Regions from separate parts of the Homo sapiens genome. Here region 1 is linked to region 2. Evidence: fine-mapped expression QTL. A gene starts in region 2. The other region holds a variant in brackets. All regions are shown on one strand. Distances are between the middles of the regions. Region 1 overlaps UBOX5 (U-box domain containing 5). Region 2 holds the start of LZTS3 (leucine zipper tumor suppressor family member 3).

Evidence for each region. PIP is the estimated chance that this variant, and not a neighbour inherited with it, causes the effect. A credible set is the group of variants that fine-mapping cannot tell apart.
Region 1: its variant is the best candidate, but not a certain one, in a credible set for the expression of LZTS3 in tibial artery (GTEx, PIP 0.77).

Annotation. Positions count from the first base shown.
Region 1 is chr20:3,108,334-3,110,833 of GRCh38, reverse strand. UBOX5 (U-box domain containing 5) reads left to right here. Exons shown (of 5, transcript NM_014948.4): 5 at 520-2,500. The coding sequence ends at 728. UBOX5-AS1 (UBOX5 antisense RNA 1) reads right to left here. Exons shown (of 7, transcript NR_038395.1): 2 at 1,084-1,359; 3 at 381-556; 4 at 117-202. Among named protein-coding and RNA genes, the nearest start is that of UBOX5-AS1, 2.7 kb to the right of the region's middle. The variant A/G (reference allele first, on the strand shown) is at 984.
Region 2 is chr20:3,171,911-3,174,913 of GRCh38, reverse strand. It overlaps LZTS3 (leucine zipper tumor suppressor family member 3), which reads left to right and starts at 1,365. Exons shown (of 5, transcript NM_001365618.1): 1 at 1,365-1,459. It overlaps LOC107985414 (a long non-coding RNA gene), which reads right to left and starts at 1,224. Exons shown (of 2, transcript XR_001754477.2): 1 at 724-1,224. RefSeq lists a silencer at 1,142-1,481.

The DNA of each region.
Region 1 (2,500 bases), 64 kb after region 2:
TAGAGACAGTATCTCACTATGTTGCCCAGGCTGGTCTCGAACTCCTGGCTTCAAGTGATCCTCCTGTCTCAACCTCCCAAAATGCTGGGATTACAGGCTTGAGCCACCCCACTGACCTGCCTTTTCCTTCTCTTGTCGCCTCTCACATTTCTTGCAGTTTATCTTGTCAGAGTGAGCTGTGCCTTGCTCCAGCCTTGGCCACCTATCGCAGGGGAAAGTAAACCTTGCTGGGAGACCAGGAGGAAGGGCCCAGTCCTGCCTGCTGCCCTCAGAAGCCAGCTCTTCTCAAGCATTCGTAGAGGCACTGAGATTTGGTCAAAGATGATAGAGAAGAGGCCTCCCGGGTTCCCAGGCTCCCTCTCCCGCTTCCACTCCCCTACCTGATCAGACTGGGATGGACTCGGGAGGGATGAAGCCAGATGCTGCAGCAGCACGGTGGGAAGGCTCTGCCCCTCAGAGCAGCCTGGACCATGGAGCAGCTTTCCTAACCCTGGCCTGTTTTCCTTCCTGATTTACCAGAGCAGCCTGGGAGCATCCTGGGCCCCGAATGTGCCTCCTGCAAAAGAGTATTTTCTCCCTACTTCAAAAAGGAGCCGGTGTACCAGCTGCCCTGCGGCCACCTCCTGTGCCGACCCTGCCTGGGTGAGAAGCAACGCTCCCTGCCCATGACGTGCACAGCCTGCCAGCGGCCGGTTGCTAGCCAAGACGTGCTGCGGGTCCACTTCTGAGTGACTGACCTCCACTGGAGGAGACCCATTGCTGGGAGGAGCTGAGGGGGAACAGGAGCAGGGCCACAGCACCCCTGAGGTCTGGCCAGGCCCCAGGCACAGAGCTGCCTGCTCCCTCCCGGGGCTCTTCTTCATCACCTCACGGTATAGCACATTGCTTCTGCGCTGGTGGCAATAGGGCAACAAAGCCATAGGCCAGAGGGCGGGGGGATGTCCCTGCCTCCCTGCCACCCCCCCTGCCTGAGCCCAGGACCC[A/G]CTGGAGCCAGCCCCACCCTAGGCAGGAAGACCCCTGCTGAGGGCCCCCCCGTGCAGTCCGCATACCCCCCTGTCCAGCAGGGCACTGTGGGTGGCTCACCCTAGATTGTGGCCCAGATCTCAGGAGTCTCTGCCTTCAGGGTCATCCAAAAGTGGACCTTGGGAGCAGTGGGGGTGTCTGTGGAGTGCATGACTCAGCCCCCCGACTCGCAGCCTTAATAAAGCGATGGTTGACGTCTGCTGTGGGTTTCCTCCTGGTGGAGTGCCTGTCTGTGTCACACACTCCTGTCGCCCACCTGCACCCACACAAGTGGAGCTCACAGGGTAGCTGTGTGCAGTCACTGCAGCTTGCCAGGCTGTCATTCCTGTCGATGACCTGAAAGGACACAAACTGGAATTTTCAGGTCTGTCCCCTGCATGGGGACTCAGAACCCAGGTTTGCAGGTGGGCATACGTGGTGGGAGGGTGGAGGGCTCCCTCTGGCCAGTGCCAGCTGTGCTCAGCTGGCTTCAGAAACTGCTCCCTGAGGGGGAGCGCAGCGTTTCCTCATGCAGTTGGTTTCAGGAAAAATACTTGTTTATAGGCTGCATCCTTTTTTCAGCCCAACATTTAGCTTTATGGAGTGCCAAAGGGAAAATATATCCATATCCCTACAACTTGGTACTCTATCAGATTCCAGCCACTAGAAGAACCTCAGTGAGAAAACACACCCGCCTTTCCCTGTTCCCTTCTAAGCACGTTTGGGAAGGAACAGCCTAAAGATGCTTTGTAAAGCTGTATTTTACCCTTGAGCTTAGCCGCGGGTCCCTGTGAACCGGCACATTCCTTTCCTTTAGGCCGTCCAGAGCTCTAGTCCACACCCAATACTTTAGAGATCTGGGTTTGGGGTTAGTTGCTTTTTTTTTTTTTTTTTTAATTGAGACAGGGTTGGTCTCTGTTGCCCAAGCTTGAGGGCAGTGGTGCAATCATAACTCATTGCAGCCTCGAACTCCTGGGCTTAAGGGATCCTTCTACCTCAGCCTCCCAGGTAGCAGGAACTATAGGCATGTGCCACCATGCCCAGCTAATTTTTTTATTTTTTGTAGAGACAAGGTCTTGCTATGTTGTCCAGACTGGTCTCAAACTCCTGGGCTCAAGCGATCCTCCCAAAGTGCTTGGATTGCAGGCATGAGCCACTTCGCCTAGCCAAGCCTGCATTTTTTTGAGTTCCTACATCATTTGTCCACAAAGATGGCTTCAGAGAGGTGGTCACATGCTTTGCTCTGCTTCCTCTTGGCACTGACCTTGATGCAGCCTTCACATGAGATTTGAGGGTCCGCATGGATGGCCTGTGCCGCCCTCGCTGGCGAGGCTCCTGTGTGCCCCTGGCTTTCTGGGTCTGTGCCTCTCCAGAATCTTGTCTTACCCTCCGGTGTGCTTGTGTTCTTAGAAAAGCCCCAGCATGGCCGGGCATGGTGGCTCATGCCTATTATCCCAGCACTTTGGGAGGCCAAGGTGGGTGGATCACTTGAGGTCAA
Region 2 (3,003 bases):
TAAAAAAAAAGTGTAAACAAAAGTTAGGTCTGTCGTCCTGATTAAGTGGACAAATATAAGTAGTGAGGGCGGCAGGTAGGAGGCAGAAAAGCACACAAAATTTCTCATGGGGGAATATAAAAACGAATTATTTGTCACTGACTTTACTAATGTGTGAAATGTAAACTATTTTCATTTGATAAATCTAAAGGCAGCCGCGAGAAGAATTAAAAATACTTTCTGCCTTGAAAATCACGATAGAAGATAAAAGCAAATGTGGGAAAATTCAGAAAACAGGAATAAATAAAAACTATAGAATACGAAGTCGTAAGACCAAACACAACACCTATAAACAGCAGAGACGTAATGCGTTAAATCCCAGCCAGAGCAGAGGCGCTGCAGTTCTTAGGGCAGACCCTGGTGCCTCCAGGCTTTTGCTAGTGCTAAACTCTCGGCTAGGCTTGCCTCCCTACCCTATTCAAGGCTGAGGCCTCAATTCAAGGCCGACTCCCTCCTCCCGGCAGTCCTCCCGGGCCGCCCTAGGCTGAGTGAGCACTCCCCACAGTGAACGCTGCCCGCGCGGGCGAGGCCGGCGCTCCGGGTCCGGTACGAAGTCCCACCTCACTCCCTCTCACCCCGGGTTACAGCGTGTGGTCTGGGGCCACGCGTTACGCCAGGCGCGGGGCACAGGGTGAAAGCGTTCAATCCTGCTGGAGTGTAATGTGTATTTTTTCCCCGTCGCACCTTCCAGACGGTGATCCAGTGTGAGCAGCAAGTTTCAAATCGTCTCCGTTTGGTCACGAACGGAGTTTACTGCCCCTCGACGCCTCCCGCACGACAGCCCGTGGTCCTCGCGCCCGGGCGGGTCGTTGCTCGGCCGGGCGGATCCACCCGCGACGGCTCGTCCCGACCCCTCCCTAGCGGACTTGCAAGGTCTCAGGGCGTCCGCTGGGAGGCCGCGTCCCGAAGAGCTGGCGCGGGAGAGGAATGGGGCTCGGGGCTCCGAGTCGGGAGCCCCTTCCCCCAAGCAAGAGGGGCTCCTCCTCCTCTTCCTAGACGTGGGATTCAGGGAGGGCGCGGTTCCATTGGATTTGTTGCAGAGGAACGACTGGGCCTGAGCCCAAGCCCAAGGGCCTGGGGGGTAACGAGCGATGAGCAGAGGGGCTCGCGGCGGACTTGCTGCGCCCTAGAGAGGGTGAGGCTGAGGGGTCCCACGCGCGGGCGGGGCGCAGCGACGAAGGGGTTAAGGCGCCTCACCCCGCCCCAGCCCGGGCATTGGCTGCCCTGGGGGGCGTGGCCGGAGGGCGGGCTCGCGTTTGCCGCAGCCGCTGGTGGGCGGGGCTCGGGCGGGGAGCAGGAGGGGCGCGGAGCGGAGCCGGGCCCGCGCAGCGCGCCCCGCCGGGCGTGCTTCGGGCTGCGCCAGCAAGCGGGGCCGGTGGCGCCCGTGTCGGAGACCCCGCGCCGGACCCTGAGGCAGCGAGTAAGTGAGGCAGGCCCATCGTGGCATCCCTCCCGGCTCCGACCTGCCGCCGTGCCTGCTGCACTGCGCGGCATGTCTGACCTGACCCGGACTGGGTAGGGGGCGCGTCCCGCTGCTAGGGTCCCAAGGGGGAGGGGAGCGGAGAGGAGGCGGATGATGTCATGGATGCTTCGCCCGGCCTGGGGGGAGGTGGCGGCCAGAGGGGGTGCGGCTCGGATTATGTCACCTCTTCCCTCTGCGCCCCGCCCCCCGGGGCCACACGCGTTGGTGGGGAGCCTGGGGAGGTGCGGGCGGGGTTTCCCCCATCGCAGGGACTCCCAGGTCCTGTGGCCTGTGGCTGGGGTCTCTATCAGTTGGCTCTGCGGGCCGTGGGCTGCTGGTGAATGGCGACCCCCCCTCCCACCCCCAGCAGAAGCTCGTGTGTGCGCGCGTGTGTGTGCTCGGGGTGGAGGGGGCGCTCTCGGCCCCCTCAGTCCTGAAACACTGGCTTCATCAGAGCCAGTAGCTAGGTGATGGGCCCATTCCGCTGCCAGTGCTTAGGCCACCGAGGGAAGACGGATCTCCCCTCACTCATCCCAACCAAGAAGTTCTGGATATCTCTGCACCCCAAAAGCCCTGCAGTGCCCCCAGATCCCTTTCCTCCCTCAGTCCTGCTTCCTGGAAACCCCTCCTGCTCTCCCTGCCCGGATTCACTGCCTCTTTGCATTGCCCATAACTAGCATTCCCACAGGCATTTGCCCTGCATTTCCTTGGTGCAGGGCCCAGAGACCCCCAGGACTCTGCCCTCTGTGCTCCTGGGAAACCTATAGGCCAGCCCTGGGGAGGCCTCAGAGTGAAATCTCCCTGGGGTGTCCTCAGCCAAGTGCTCCAAGATGCCCCCTCTGGGGGGTGGAGATCAGGGATGCTGTCCTGAGGCCAGCCTTTGAACTGGTCTAGAAGCATGTAGGATGGGCACAGAGAGCTGGCAAGAGCTTGTGTGTGAAGTAGAGAGGGGCTCAGGTCAGGGTAGATAGAGGAGGGGCATCAGGAGAGTCCTTGGGGACCCTGCTGCAAGCTCTGCTCTGGTTCTGGGGACCAAGAGGAATACCAGGCATTTCACCCATCATACATTTACTTCTTAAAATGCCTGCAATGTAGGTGTGAGAACCCGAGGTGAAATAACCTGCATGAGGTTGCACCCCTAATCAGTCAAGCTGGGATTTACACTTGGAGCTGATGCTGCCAGAACTCTGTCTACTGCACTTGGTCTTGCTCATGGAAGGATTTGGACAGAGCAGGGGCAAGATCAGCTTTGCCCTTTAGAAGGAATCCCCTGGCAGCTGCCTGGGGGAGGGAGTGCAGGAGAAGAAAGTCCATTGAGGAGCCCCCAGCAGGGGTGCTGGATGGAGGGGCTGGCTAGAGATTTTTAGGAGATAGAATGGGCTGGGGTTGGGGCCTCTGAGACCCCAAGTGTTCCTAGCTTTGGGAGAGACACAGGTTGAGGGGTGGGTTGGAGGTACCTGTACATGTAACTGTCAGGTAGAGTCCGTTTGGCCCCCTCATGA